Regions from separate parts of the Homo sapiens genome. Here region 2 is linked to region 1. Evidence: fine-mapped expression QTL. Tissue or cell type: whole blood. Region 1 holds a variant in brackets; the other region holds the start of a gene. All regions are shown on one strand. Distances are from middle to middle.

Region 1 (8,001 bases):
TTTACATGGTCTAGTAGCTACATTAAAAAGAATAAAAAGAAATAGGTAAAATTAATTTTAGCAACACATCATCTAATATGTAAAAAATAATACTCCAGCATATAATCAAATATAAATAATGATCAATGAGCTGTTTTACATTTGAAGACTCTGCTAGGTCTTTGAAATCAGGTGTGTATGTGATACTTGTAGCTCATCTCAGTGGCACTGGCCACGTTTAAGTGTTTATATAGACACATGTGGTTGATGGCTACTGTGGCCAGTGCAGGCCTGAAACACTGACTTGGGGCTTCTTAGGTTATAACTATTGCTTTACCTCAAGATAAGGTTCTAAGAGTGACCTTAATTACTAGCTACAGGTTTTTTTTTTTTTTTTCTTTTGGAGATGGAGTTTTGCTCTGTCACACAGGCTGGAGTGCAGTGGCGTGAGCTCAGCTCACTGCAACCTCTGTCTCTCAGGTTCAAATGATACTCCTGCCCCAGCCTCCCAAGTAGCTAGGATTATAGGTGCCTGCCTCCACGCCCAGCTAATTCTTGTATTTTTAGTAGAGACAGGGTTTCACCATGTTGGCCAGGCCGGTCTCGAACTCCTGACCTCAGGTGATCTGGCCGTCTTGGCCTCCCAAGGTGCTGGGATTACAGATGTGAGCCACTGCACCTGGCCAAGCCACAGATTTTTAATAACCTCATGAATACAGACTTGAAAGGAGTGCCACGTGAAAGCCAGTGTCTTAGTATATATTTTTTTAGTGATTTAGTGTTTGTTATGTGTGTATAGTTATGAGCAATATCATGGACAGATGCAACTTTTGGCCTTTATAGGTGGGACCCAGAAGGCTGGGTATCTGGTTTGGCCTTGATAATTTGTTGGACAGAGAAGGTTTTAAAGGGTTTGAGAGGGTAGCATTAGTGAAACTAGTGAAACTAGGTGGATACCAAGCTAGCATTCCTTTTTTTTTTTTTTTTTTTTTTTTTTTTTTTGTGGCGTGATCTCAGCTCACTGCAACTTCCGCCTCCCGGGTTCAAGTGATTCCCCTGCCTCAACCTCCTGAGTAGGTGGGACTACAGGTGCACACCACCATGCCCAGCTAATTTTTATATTTTTATAGAGACGGGGATTCACCATGTTGGCCAGGATGGTCTTGATCTCTTGACCTCGTGATCCGCCTGCCTTGGCCTCCCAAAGTGCTGGGATTACAGGCGTGAGCCACTGCGCCTGGCCAGCATTCCTTTTCATAAGCTCTTTCGACTTCCTTTCTTCCTTGGTCATTAATGCCACCAGGCATGTGATTAGAAGGCCCCTTCCCTGCCTTTTGGATTGTGGAGCTGTAGCTCTGAGTCTGCTTCCCGCTGGGGCTGGTCGGCTCTTGGCCTGTGTATCCCCTGCTCTTTGGGGCTGTTGGTTTCAGGAAAGGCAGCAAACTGCAGCAAAAGCAGAGGTGGGGACAGTGAGGGAAAATGGATGATTTAGCTTTGCCGGCCACCAGGCAGTAGCTGTACTGTATGTATGTATGTATGTATGTATGTATGTATGTATGTATGTATGAATGAATGAATGAATGATTGAATGAGACAGGGTCTTGCTGTGTCTCCCAGACTAGAGTGTAATGGTCCATTGATAGCTTACTGCAGCCTTGAACTCCTGGGCTCAGACAATGTTCCTGCTTCAGCCTCTTAAGTATCTGGTACTATAGGCATACACCACCCTACCTGGCTAATTTTTAGATTTTTTTGTAGAGACAGGTTTTGCCATGTTGCCCAGGCTGGTCTCAAGTTCCTGGCCTCAAGCGATCCTCTCACCTTGACCTCCCAAAGCTTTGGGATTGCAGATGTGAGCCACGGCAGCTGGCCCCTCTAGTACTTTATTGAAACTTTCAATTATTTTTTATTTCTGCGGCTGGTAAAGGAATAGTGAAAGGCTGTCTAGAACTGTGATTCTGGTTTGGTCTAACAAGACTTTGATGATGAACTTTGAAATTCGTTTTGATAAAATTGTCCTGGTGGTGTCACCTGATCCTCATCTCTGGATGCTTTTTGACTGCAGGTTATAAAGAGGGTCCTTTCTCCTGGGATGAGACTTGATCTCCTCTGTTGTGTTTGGTGTCTTCATCAGGCTGTGGGGAAGCTAGATAAGCTGTTTATTTCTGTTTTTAAATTTTTATTATTTATTTTTTAAAAAGATGGAGCCTTGCTATGTTGTCACAACTGGCTTTTAACTCTTGGGCTCAAGCAATTCTCCCGACTCAGCCTCTAGAGTAGCTGAGACGCGTGCGCCACTCCACCTGACATGCTTCAGTTTTTGTGGCTGTGAGTTCAGAAGGCTGGACTAGATGATTTCTCTGGTCCCTTCTGGCTTGTAGAATTCCCTTCTGCCGAGGTCGTTCTCAGTGGCTGTACCTTTGATTTTGTTGCTTTACTTTCCATGCTGCTCTGTGGCCCTGACCTGTAAATACAGGTTTTTGCAACTTGCATTCATTGACAGTTAAATGGAATTCACTTGTCATAGATGTGAATACAGTACACTGGAATGAAGATGCCCCATGGTTAAAGTACACACAGGACTATGAGTGTTATAACTTTTATTGGTCTTGGCTAGATAGAGTCCTGGCCTAAGGACTGAGACAGATTTCTTCATAGCCTCTTAATGGGAATCAGAGACCCTCAGTGGGGCTCATGGAGGGTCAGAGCACTTTCCATTGGGCTTCCAAAGAGTTCCATTGAGCCCTTTCCAGGGTCCTTTCTATTGACCCCCTCATGCAATCAGACCTGGACTTGATTGTCCAGTCCCTTGGTAAGGACTCAGTTTATGATTGTCAGCTACCTTGCTAGGCTGTAATTGTCTCAGGCTTCCCTAGTTTTTTCTCCTTAATCCTTTTTCAGTCCCTGAGAAGCTTCTACATGTTTCAAGGGGTAGTCTGCTCTTTCTGGGAGCTGTTACCGTCAAGGTTGCTATAAACAAATCCATGTTGTTTATCTGAGGCTGAAGAAAATTGACATTAAACTGATGTGGTTTTTGTCTGTGTTGGGGTTTGATCAAAGACCACATCTCCTTTTGGGTTAGAAGTCTGCCTGATATTTTATTGCCATACTAATGCCAAGCATCTCACCCTTTTTAATGTCTTGTGCAGGTCAACGTATTGAAACTTACTGTTGAAGACTTGGAGAAAGAGAGGGATTTCTACTTCGGAAAGCTACGGAACATTGAATTGATTTGCCAGGAGAACGAGGGGGAAAACGACCCTGTATTGCAGAGGATTGTAGACATTCTGTATGCCACAGATGTATGTGTTTGACATGAGGATATTTTCTTTCCATTTTACATAGAAGGGTTGGTGAACTCTGTGCTGATGCTTGTTGTATTCCAGTGTTGCATTCATCAAAAGACTTCATCTTTAACCCCTCAAAGTCAGCCAGAGGGCATCTCTGCCCAGCTTTAGCTTCTGCCTGAGGTCTGTGAGCTTTTGAAGAAGGAATAGGACAAGGAGGTGGCTGGCTTGCCCAGCATCTGTAGTATGTGGCCACTGATAGGTGATGAGTGCCACAAACTGCTCTTAGCCAGAAGCAACCCATGTCCTCACTCCACCCCACCTCCTATTGCTTGGATCCCTCAGCTTCAGTTGCTGCCTCCATTTTATCAGGGCCCGGGGCATGCCCGGAAAAGCAGGCACATGCTCCCTTTTTCACGGCGTGCCCACATATCACGTCATGTCTGGGTATGCCTTTCTCCTCCCTCCTAGGAGTTTGCCTGGTTCTCACTCCCTCAAAGTACTCTATGATCAAGTTTCTTTGGATCCATGTTTATTGCACAGTCAAATCTGTTGATATTAATCACGACATGTTAGTTGATCAGGGAAGACTCATTTTTTTCTAGATTTAGGATTGTTATCCGGCTGTGTCCACTGTTTAATGGTGATGTTTGTAATTCTGTGTGCCTAGCAAGGTCTGTAGGATCAAACTACAAACTTCTGGTAGTATGTGTAGCACTATGCAAATACAAGGTAGTAATAATGCTGTTACTGTCACTGTCCTTGAGACATATCTTGTGAATTTCAGGGGATTAAGACAGATGACTGAAAAGTTGATAATCTGTTGAATAAATCTTTAATTTAGAGCTTGCTCTGTGCTATGTAATGAAAAAAAGACAACGAAGATATAGGGGGTCCTTGGTTTAGTCTGAGTATTATTTTAGTGGAGCCACATCTTAAGTAAGTTCAGCTATAGAGATTTAGTTAATAGAAATAAGATGGTGGTTGAAAGAGAAGTCTGATTTTACAGCAGAATAGTATAGTAATTTCCTGCTCTGAGTCCATGCCAGAATGCCCTG[T/G]AGTGAGAATGAGGTGTGTGGGAGTCATGAATCTGCTTTTTCCTTGTGCACTCAATTTTTCTGCCACTGATGTTGGGTCAGTCTTGCTGTTGTGAATATTTTGGGTAAAGCATGGCTCCTAAGTATAACAAAAGGAAGGCATAAAAGGAAAGCTGGCTGCATAGACAGTTTATTGAGAGAAGATGTTAGAGTACTGAACTTTACAGGGGACTTCAGGAATTTTTGAGGGAAATTTTTTTTTTTTTTTAGTGACGGGGATCTCACTTTATTGCCCAGGCTGGAGTGCCTGGTGGTGCGATCATGGCTCACTGCAGCTTTGACCTCCTGGGTCAAGCAGTCCTGCCTCGACCCCGCTGGGGAGTAGCTGGGACTACAGGCATGTCCCACCAGGCTTGGCTAGTTTTTTTTTTTTTCGAGACATTGTCTCACTGTGTTACCCAGGCTGGTCTTGAACTTCTGGGCTCAAGCCTTGGCCTTCCAAAGTGCTAGGATTACAGGCATGAGCCATCACACCTGGCCTTCTTTCTTCTTTAAAAAACAGTTTTATTGAAGTATAACTGACATAATAAACTGCACATATTTAAAATGTACCTTTGATGACATGGGTGAAATTACCACCATAATGAAGACAATGTAAATATGCATCACTTTCAAAAGTTTGAGGGTAAATTTGACTGTGCTCAGTTTTTGTCTTTGGTGAGATGCAATTCTACTACCCAAGAAATAAAATAGCAGTCACCTGGCCTGTATAGAGCCAGGAAGAACCATTGTTTTTAAGAGGCTGTAAGTATGAGGAAAGTGAACTCACAGTAGAAATGGATCTTTCAGTGGCTTTCCCCTCTCATTTTCCTATTTCAGGAAGGCTTTGTGATACCTGATGAAGGGGGCCCACAGGAGGAGCAAGAAGAGTATTAACAGCCTGGACCAGCAGAGCAACATCGGAATTCTTCACTCCAAATCATGTGCTTAACTGTAAAATACTCCCTTTTGTTATCCTTAGAGGACTCACTGGTTTCTTTTCATAAGCAAAAAGTACCTCTTCTTAAAGTGCACTTTGCAGACGTTTCACTCCTTTTCCAATAAGTTTGAGTTAGGAGCTTTTACCTTGTAGCAGAGCAGTATTAACACCTAGTTGGTTCACCTGGAAAACAGAGAGGCTGACCGTGGGGCTCACCATGCGGATGCGGGTCACACTGAATGCTGGAGAGATGTTATGTAATATGCTGAGGTGGCGACCTCAGTGGAGAAATGTAAAGACTGAATTGAATTTTAAGCTAATGTGAAATCAGAGAATGTTGTAATAAGTAAATGCCTTAAGAGTATTTAAAATATGCTTCCACATTTCAAAATATAAAATGTAACATGACAAGAGATTTTGCGTTTGACATTGTGTCTGGGAAGGAAGGGCCAGACCTTGGAACCTTTGGAACCTGCTGTCAACAGGTCTTACAGGGCTGCTTGAACCCTCATAGGCCTAGGCTTTGGTCTAAAAGGAACATTTAAAAAGTTGCCCTGTAAAGTTATTTGGTGTCATTGACCAATTGCATCCCAGCTAAAAAGCAAGAGGCATCGTTGCCTGGATAATAGAGGATGTGTTTCAGCCCTGAGATGTTACAGTTGAAGAGCTTGGTTTTCATTGAGCATTTCTCTATTTTTCCAGTTATCCCCGAAATTTCTATGTATTATATTTTTTGGGGAAGTGAGGTGTGCCCAGTTTTTTAATCTAACAACTACTTTTGGGGACTTGCCCACATCTCTGGGATTTGAATGGGGATTGTATCCCATTTTACTGTCTTTTAGGTTTACATTTACCACGTTTCTCTTCTCTGCTCCCCTTGCCCACTGGGGACTCCTCTTTGGCTCCTTGAAGTTTGCTGCTTAGAGTTGGAAGTGCAGCAGGCAGGTGATCATGCTGCAAGTTCTTTCTGGACCTCTGGCAAAGGGAGTGGTCAGTGAAGGCCATCGTTACCTTGGGATCTGCCAGGCTGGGGTGTTTTCGGTATCTGCTGTTCACAGCTCTCCACTGTAATCCGAATACTTTGCCAGTGCACTAATCTCTTTGGAGATAAAATTCATTAGTGTGTTACTAAATGTTAATTTTCTTTTGCGGAAAATACAGTACCGTGTCTGAATTAATTATTAATATTTAAAATACTTCATTCCTTAACTCTCCCTCATTTGCTTTGCCCACAGCCTATTCAGTTCCTTTGTTTGGCAGGATTCTGCAAAATGTGTCTCACCCACTACTGAGATTGTTCAGCCCCTGATGTATTTGTATTGATTTGTTTCTGGTGGTAGCTTGTCCTGAAATGTGTGTAGAAAGCAAGTATTTTATGATAAAAATGTTGTGTAGTGCATGCTCTGTGTGGAATTCAGAGGAAAACCCAGATTCAGTGATTAACAATGCCAAAAAATGCAAGTAACTAGCCATTGTTCAAATGACAGTGGTGCTATTTCTCTTTTGTGGCCTTTTAGACTTTTGTTGCCCTAAAATTCCATTTTATTGGGAACCCATTTTCCACCTGGTCTTTCTTGACAGGGTTTTTTTCTACTTTAAACAGTTTCTAAATAAAATTCTGTATTTCAAGAGTATCATGTCTTCTGAAATTTGTCTTGCCCTGGGTATATGCTGTTAGGTTCAAGTGATGGGAAACCAGTGCTTCTTTCTTCAGTGAGGACTGATCTTTTCACATCCTTTACTGATTTTTCAGATGTGCTTATTTCTTCTTCTTCTTCTTTTTTTTTTTTTTTTTTTTGAGATGGAGTCTTGGTCTGTCGCCCAGGCTGGAGTGCAGTGGCATGATCTCGGCTCACTGCAACCTCTGCCTCCCAGGTTCAAACAGTTCTCTGCCTCAGCCTCCCAAGTAGCTGGGATTATAGGCACCCACCACCACGCCCGGCTAATTTTTGTGTATTTTTAGTAGAGATGGGGTTTCACCATCTTGGCCAGGCTGATCTTGAACTCCTGACCTCGTGGTCCACCCACCTCAGCCTCCCAAAGTGCTGGGATTACAGGCGTAAGCCACCGTGCTCGGTCAGATGTGCTTATTTCTAAGCTGACTTCTTTTTTCTTCATTCACATTATATTGTACAGCCTCCTGCTTTTTAAAATTCTCGTTGCTGTAAGAGGTTTTTCCTCTCGGAAGTCCAAGGCCTGGCCTATCTGCTGTGAAGCCTTTTCAGGGCATTTCCTTCTGAGAAATATAGCAGGACAGTGCTTGGCAGATGACTGTGGGGAGATTTTTTTTTTTTTTTTTTCTGAAGGTGTGATTCTTTCTTCCTTTCTTTTTTGAGACAGGGTCTCCCTCTGTTGCCCAGTCTGGAGTGCAGTGGCATGATCTTGGCTCACTGCAGCCTTGCCCTCTTGGGTTCAAGCGATCCTCCCACCTCAGCCTCGTGAGTAGTGGGGACTACAGGCATGCACCACCATGCCCAGCTAAACTTTGTATTTTTTGTAGAGATGGGGTCCCCTTATGTTGCCCAGGCTTGTCTTGAACTCCTGGGCTCAAGTGATCCTCCCACCTTGACCTCCTAAAGTGCTGGGATTACAGGTGTGAGCCACTGCACCCAGCCCTGAAAGTATGTTTCAAAGTCAGTTAACATGATCTTAATCTATAAAATAATCTAAAATTGTCACCATTTTTTTCTCCCTTATAAAATTATATGCTATTAGAAAT
Region 2 (8,001 bases), 27 kb before region 1:
GTGGCTCACGCTTGTAATCCCAGCACTTTAGGAGGCCAAGGTGGGCGGATCACGAGGTCAGGAGTTTGAGACCAGCCTGGCCAATATGGTGAAACCCTGTCTCTACTAAAAATACAAAAATTAGCCGGGCATGGTGGTGTGTGCCTGGAATCCCATCTACTCAGGAGGCTGAGGCAGGAGAATGGCTTGAACCCAGGAGGCGGAGGTTGCAGTGAGCCGAGATCACACAATTCCACTCCAGCCTGGGCGACAGAGTGTCTCTGTTTCTTCGTTTTTTAAAAAGAATATAAATAAATAAAATACAGGTAACAGATGTTGCATCAAAGCACTTATAAATATCTTTAGTTGATTATCTATGCTTGACATCAGCTCACCATAATGTTCATATTACTGCTGTCGCTATAATCATTTGTTACATGGTTTTTTATTCTTTATTGTTGCCTCTTTTTTTTTCTTTTTCTTTTCTTTTTTTTTTTTTTTTGAGTTGGAGTCTTGCTCTTTTGCCCAGGCTGGAGTGCAATGGTGCCATCTCGGCTCATTGCAACGTCCACCTCCTGGGTTCAAGCAATTCTCCTGCCTGAGCCTCTCGAGTAGTTGGGATTATAGGTGTCCGCCACCATGCCCAGCTAATTTTTGTATTTTTAGTAGAGACGGGGTTTCACCATGTTGGCCAGGCTGTTCTCCAACTCCTGACCTCGTGATTTGCCGACCTCAGCCTTCCGAAGTGCTGGAATTACAGGCACGAGCCACCGCGCCTGGCTTTTCTTGCCTTTTTTTGCTCAAACTCTGTTTTTTTTTTTTCTTTGAGACAGAGTCTTGCTCTATCACCCAGGCGGGAGTGCAGTGGCACGATCTCAGCTCACTGCAACCTCCACCTCCTGGGTTCAACCAATTCTCCTGCTCCATCCTCCCAAGTAGCTGGGATTACAGGCGCGCGCCACCACGCCCAACTAATTTTTGCATTTTTAGTAGAGACGGGGTTTCACCACGTTGGTCAGGCTAGTCTCAGACTCTTGACCTCGTGATCCGCCCACCTCGGCCTCCCAAAGTGCTGGGATTACAGGCATGAGCCACCACAACTGGCCTTGCTCAAACTCTTTTGCCAAGGTAACTCCTCATCTTTCATGGTAAGTGTCATTTCTGGGAAGCTTTTCCACACTACCTAGGAGAGGTCATGTCTCTTGTGGTGTGCTCTTGGAGCAGTACTCGAGACCGAAGTATTGAAATGCCTCTAGACCTGCTGATAAACAGCTCCTGCCCCAGCTTCCCCACCCATTCTTCCCTGAACGTCTTACTGGGTTTCAGCAACTAACTGGGTGAGATTTGGCCTAGAGGGACCTCTAGGCCCCTGCTCCACACAGTGGAAGTACCATCAGCCCACCACATAATGTCCCTGCCTAGCATTGAGCCTGATTTGTAATTTAACAAGGATTTGTGTCATTAGTTGTGTCCCCTTTGCCTCCCCTGCCAGTCTGGAAACTTTAAGAGGTCAGAAGCTGTGTCTAGTTTTCGTTTTTATCTCTTAGAGATGGAGTTTCACTCTGTTTCCCAGGCCTGGAGTGCAGTGGCGTGATCTTTGCTCACTGCAGCCTCGAACTCCTGGGCTCAAGCGATCCTCCTGCCCCAGCCTTCCCAGTAGCTGGAACTAAAGGCACGTACCACCATGATCAGATTGTGTCTTTTTTTCACCAGGGCCTGATTGGTCAGGGAAAATATTTGTTGAATACTTGAATAAATGATACCCAGACAAAAAAAGTCAGCTTGAAATCTGGATCTACCTCTGACACTGAGTGAGTCAATTGGCCTCTTTGTCCCTCAGTTTCTTTCTGCTGTAAAGTGGTGCAGTTCCTCTTTTTTTCTTTTTTAGACGAAGTCTGACTGCAACCTCTGCCTCCCAGGTTCAAGTGATTCTCCTGCCTCAGCCTCCCAAGTAGCTGGGATTACAGGCGCCCACCACCATGCCCGGCTAAGTTTTGCATTTTTAGTAGAGATGGGGTTTCGCCATGTTGGACAGGCTGGTTTCCAACTCCTGACCTCAGGTAATTCATCCGCCTTGGCCTCCCAAAGTGTTGGGATTACAGGTGTGAGCCACCACGCCCAGCCCAGTTCCTCCTTCAGCCAAGGCTCTCTTGAGAATGTAAGGGCCAGGTGTGGTGGCTCACGCCTGTAATCCCAGCACTTTGGGAGGCCGATGCGGGTGGATCTCTCGAGCCCAGGAGACCAGCCCAGCCTGGGCAACATGGCAAGACCCCATCTCTTAAAAAAAAAAAAAAAAAAAAGAGGGAGTGGGCAAGAGAGAATGTATGTACAGCCATTGGGAAACAACCCGGAACAGGACTCAGGAGGTCCTTGCTCCTGTGGACTTTACAGGAGACAGACAGTAAAGGCACAAGATGCCTTCTTATGGTACTAAGAAGAAAATATGCCGCATGATATTGCAGATGGGGGGGCGGGGGCGTCACAGAACGTGACTTTTTTTTTTTTTTTTTGAGACAGAGTCTTGCTCTGTCGCCCAGACTGGAGTGCAGTGGTGCAGTCTCGCCTCACTGCCACCTCCGTCTCCTGGGTTCAAGTGATTCTCCTGCCTCAGCTTCCCAAGTAGCTGGAATTACAGGCGCCCACCACCACGCCAGGCTAATTTTTGTATTTTTAGTAGAGATGGGGTTTCACTATGTTGGCCAGGCTGGTCTCAAACTCCTGACCTCAGGTGATCCTCCCACCTGGGCCTCCCAAAGTGCTGGGATTAAAGGCGTGAGCCACTGCACCCGGCCCAGAAAGTTGACTTCTAAGCGTTTCCCCAAAGTGTCTATTAGGTATCTTTATGATTCAATAACCCATTCTTACAGAAATTAATTGTAAGCCTGGGAGCGGTGGCTCACGCCTGTTATCCCAGCGCTTTGGGAGGCTAAGGCGGGAGGATCGCTTGAGGCCAAGAGTTCGAGACCACCCTGGGCAACACAGCGAGACCTCCATACATCTCTAAGCAAAAAAAAAAAAAAATTCATTGTAAAAGCAATTTTCTTTTTGGTTACTGCCATAGGGATTTTGTAACTGAGTCACACCGGGCCGAGGCGGGACCTCATTGGCTGCGACCGACCACGTGCCGCAGTCGCCCCGGCGGTCGGGGCCCCGCCCCTCGGCTACCGTTCTGTGGATCAGGGGCCGAGCTCCGCCCCCGGCGCGCGGCTGAGACCCTCTCTATAAAAGGAGCCGGCGGAGGATGGCGAGCCTTTACGTCGGCGCGTAACGAGGGGGTGCGTGTGAGGTCATCGCGCGGGCGGGCGGGCGGGGTCTGGCGGTTTGAACGAGACGAAGACGGAACCGGAGCCGGTTGCGGGCAGTGGACGCGGTTCTGCCGAGAGCCGGTGAGCCGGCTAGCGGGCCCGGGGGGTGCGGCTGGGGGGGCGGCCGCGTGGGCCAAGGCCGGGCGTGCGCGGGCAGGCCCTACGGGCAGCGCCAGGGCCGTTCCACACGGCGGTGCTGTTCGAGCCGGGTGGGGGAAGGGCGGGGCCGTCACCCGGCGCGCGCGGGCTGGGCCTGGGGGCGCGCGCTGCGCTCTGCTCAGGGGGCGGGGTCTCGGGCCGGAAGTGGGCTGCTGCTACGCGGGGTGGGGGTTTCTGGGCCGCCGCTGAGGTGTGGTCCCTGCGCTGCAGCGACTGGAGGTCCCAGGGTGGTTGGGCCCTGGGAGGGTGTGGGCGAGGTGGGCCGTCCTGGGAGCTCTGGGGACGCACATTGTGGGAGGCCGTGTTGCCTGAGGGCCGAGAGATCGGGTGGTGGAGTCAGACCTGGGTTGGGTTCCGTGCGGTGTGACCTTGGACAGGTGCTTTAACCGCTGTGGATCTCAGCTTCCTCATCTGTAAAACGGGGACAGTAATACTACCCACATTAAACTCTTAGCGCGATGTATGGCAGAAAGTAAGCCAGCTCTTGGACTCCCTCCTTTCTTCAGTGTGTGTTTATTGAATGCCCACTAGGTGTTGGGCACCGTGCTAAACCCTGGCTGTTTTCCCGGGAACAAAGATTTGCTCTCCAGGAATCCACATTATGATGAGCAGGAGGACAGTATAACGGGATGGTATCAACAGTGCTAGTTCAGTCCCTACTTCACAGTTGCCCTCGGATGCTGCAGGGCAGAGCTTGACCTCTGCCCCATTTTGGGGATGAGGATCCTGGGGCCCATTGAGGGAGGTTATGCTAGGCCGGGCATCCGCTTCTCCGATGGCATGTCTCTAACAGTAGTAATGATAATAGCAGCTCTTTGTTAGTTGGGCACTTGTTTTGTGTCAAGCACTGTTAAGTGCTCCATGTGGCTTTGTGTCTTTTAATACTAACACTGTCTTTAAGAGAGATTCTCTTCTTCCTTTTTTTTTTTTTTTTGAGACAGAGTTTTATTCTGTTGCCCAGGCGTGCAGTGGCACCATCGCTCACTGCAACCTCCGCCTCCCGGGTTCAAGCGATTCTCGTGCCTCAGCCTCCCGAGTAGTCGGGATTACAGGCGCGCGCCACCAAGCCCGGCTAATTGTTGTATTTTTTAGTAGAGACGAGGTTTCGCCATGTTGGCCAGGCTGTTGTCGAACTCCTGACCTCAAGTGATCTGTCCGCCTCGGCCTCCAAAGTGTTGGGATTACAGGTGTGAGCCACCGCGCCTGGCAAGAGAGATTACTTTCATTTTACAAATAAGGGGTCTGAGACTCTGAGAGGCGGAGTGTCTTATGCAGCCCAGCAAGTGGCTGAACCCCCACCTGGGACTTCAGTGTCTAGGCTCTTAACCTCTTTATTACACTTTCTCCCTGAGGTCCAGAGCTACACATCCAGATGTGCCCTTTGTGGTGGTGCGTCAAAGTGCCTAGCACAGTTTTTGGCACAGAGGGAAGCTTAGGACGTGATGTGCCTTTTGCTTAAGTGTTTTCATGTAGATTTTTGTTTAATCCTTACCACCACTTTGTGCAGAGATACTGTTTTACCCATTTTACAGGATGAGCCATTTGTGATGCAGGAAGATTAAGTGACTTGCCCACGGTCACATAGGTCCTTTCTGGTGGCACCTCCTTCCCCCACTTTACATAGGGCTTATTGTGGTGCCTTGAAAGTAATAGAGTGCTTTAGAGCCAGCGTTGAATTTGTATAGGTTTGGGATCTTGCTAGGAGAGCTGCTGAAGGAAGAGAGATTCCTGGGTAGGTTTGAGGGAGCTTTTTCATGGTGGTGGTGGAAACCTGGATCAGGAAGCCTTGTAAGGGTGAGATTTGTGTGGTAGTCATGGGTCTTCCATGGCTGCCAATGATGGAATTGTGAAGGAAGGGTGAGCTGGAGCTCTGTTTTGATTGTCAGGAGGAGCCAATTAATTGATTGAGTCGGTGGATGTTCATTGTACATCCACAGGGTGCCTAATCCATGTATTTAGTGGCTGCAGCGTTTGTGGAGCACGTGGGACCAGGTATTAATGTACTGCTAATGAAAGTTTTAAATTATATGATGATGAAAGGCCATTAATGTTTTTTGAGCTGGGGTGTGGTCAGGAGACACACATGGCTTTACCAGCTGCTTAGATTTTATAGCAGCATGATGCACACGATACAGTATATATAGGAATGTCGCCATAATAGATTACAATTGCTCAGCTGGGACCATGTCTTTTTTGTTTGAATGTCTCTGGTACCTGATTTTGCGCACAGTATTTTGTTCATTCAAGGATTTTAAACAAGGGAGGCACTTGCTGTGATTTGTGATTCAGGAAATTCTCTCTGGTTTGCTGTGTAAGAACAGATTGACACAGACAAATTTGAAGACTGTTGCAGTGCATCTCCGTGCAAGATGGTGCTGGCAGGTCTCAGGCGCACTGTTTTTGGCATTGGAGATAGGAGGATGAGTGAGACAAGGTCCCTACCCTACATCTTGTTTGTTAAATACCTCTTAAATTTGATGCCATGCCAAATATTTTATGTACCTTATCTAATTTAAACCCTTCTATGACCCTTTTCAGATAGGTGGCTTTAACTTGTAAGGGAACTGAGGTACATTGAGTTTAAGTAACTTGCCTAAGATCACACAACTAATGAGTGACTGCCTCACATTCAAACCCATGTCCTCCTGGCTTGAAATCCTCAGCTGTTTGCATCGAGTGGATTGCTTCCTGGCCCAAATCTGGCTCGAGAATGGTTCAGAAATAACGAGATAATGACAATTCATTGTGGGACTTCCTATCATAAAGGTTTGAATGAATTGCTCTGGAAACATAGGGATTAATTTCCCAGTGGAGTCAGTAACTAAATTGTGTTGGTGTCTTGCATAACATGGTTTTATCAGCTGATTTGGGGAGTGTAACAGTGTTGATGATTTGCTTTCTGACAAGTTTATATAGACACATTTTTCTCTCTTTGACGCTGTTCTGCCAACCTGAAAATAAGTAGTGAGTGCTTGCTATGTGCAAGATACTATGAGGTGCCTGGGAGATGTGAGGGCACGCAGACCTGGCAAGTTATTGACCTCTACAGACCTCAGTCACCCCATAAAAAGGGGACTGGATGGGTGGATTTGCCTCTTCTGGCTGTCACATTCTGTGGCTTGGTGAGTCAGGAGGCTTGCAGCAGCTTAGTGCAGGAGACTGATGTGGAAAGACCAACTCTAGTCACTAGGTGGAGGGAACGAAGTACCGTAAGAGAGCAAGGGGCTGGGATCTCAGGATTGTTCCAGATTGCTCTGCATCTTTCCCCTGCCCCTCCCCACTGGTAATGTTGCTGTCTTATGAAATGAAGAAAATTGTTAAGTGTCTAGGTCACTATGAAGTCTCTGGTATTTCATAGTGTGTCCTCATGGTGACTGCTCAGGGATTTGATTTAGATCTGGATTAGCCTGCCTTTATCTTGAGTCTTCCCTCCCTACTGTCTGTTCTCTACTAGTAGTCAATGTGATCTTTTTCAAACTGTAATGAGAGCAAGATTCTACCGCACTTAAAACCTGAAAGTGCCTGGGTGTGGTGGCTCATGCCTGTAATCCCAGCACCTTGGGAGGCTGAGGCGGAGGATTGTTTGAGGCTGGGCCGCAAAATGAGACCTGGTCTCTACAAAAAATTAAAAAATTAGCTGGGCTTGGTGGTGACCATCTGTAGTCCCAGCTACTTGGGAAGATGAGTCAAGAGGATGGCTTGAGCCTGGGAAGTCAGGGCTGCAGTGAGCCGTGATTGTGGCATTGCACTCCAGCCTGGGTGACAGAGTGACACCCTGCCTCAAAAAACAAACCCAACAGTGGATTTCTTAATAGAATAAAATCCTAACTCCTTCTGTTCCCACCTCAGGCTCTGCTCTCCTTGCTCACTGGGCTGGAGAGCCCTATCTCTAGAGCTTCATGTGGTTGCTTCTTTCTCTGATCCTTAAGCTCAACTGTTCATCTCAGAGAGGCTTCCTCTGACCACATTCCGTAAACCCCGTTGCATAAGTGGTTGGTATGAAATGATGTTTGTTGGTGTATTTGGTCAGTGTCAGACTTTGCACCACTAGAATGTGAACTCCCTGTGGACAGGCACCTTGTCTCTTGCTTTTCTGTATCCTGGTCCCTAGAACAGTGCCTAGCACGCGGTAGAGCTAGTAAACATTTGTAGAATGAGTGACGGTTGACTACACTGGTGCTCATAGACAATAACGCCCACATTTACTAGCATTTGAAAATTAGACTCATTGCTGTGTGTTTATTGTTTTGAATTTGAAAGCCTAGCAGAAAAGGGAGGGAAGAGAATGTGGAGGCTGGGGCTGGGCAGGCTTGCCTGCCAACCCCAGGGCCTCTCTTGTCCTCACCTGTAAAATGAGGGACATGAAGTGAACCTTGCAGAGGGCTGTCAGGGTTAAACAACAAGTGTCTGTGAAGTATCTGGCACTTAGGCCCACAGATGCCCTACCATTGCCAGGTAGCTCTGCAGAGAATTAACTACAAGGATTCTTCACCTGTAAGGTCATTTGATACTGCCTTTTTAATATCTAGGTATTGAAAAGCTGATTTACTTTTTCAAT

Evidence for each region. PIP is the estimated chance that this variant, and not a neighbour inherited with it, causes the effect.
Region 2: MAPRE1 starts here. The variant in region 1 is fine-mapped to the expression of MAPRE1 in whole blood (INTERVAL, PIP above 0.99).

Annotation. Positions count from the first base shown.
Region 1 is chr20:32,843,490-32,851,490 of GRCh38, forward strand. It overlaps MAPRE1 (microtubule associated protein RP/EB family member 1), which reads left to right. Exons shown (of 7, transcript NM_012325.3): 6 at 3,129-3,281; 7 at 5,183-6,916. The coding sequence ends at 5,239. Among named protein-coding and RNA genes, the nearest start is that of EFCAB8, 11 kb to the right of the region's middle. The variant T/G (reference allele first, on the strand shown) is at 4,325.
Region 2 is chr20:32,816,664-32,824,664 of GRCh38, forward strand. MAPRE1 (microtubule associated protein RP/EB family member 1) reads left to right here and starts at 3,291. Exons shown (of 7, transcript NM_012325.3): 1 at 3,291-3,365. RefSeq lists a silencer at 3,008-3,597 and enhancers at 3,670-4,339, 4,340-5,009.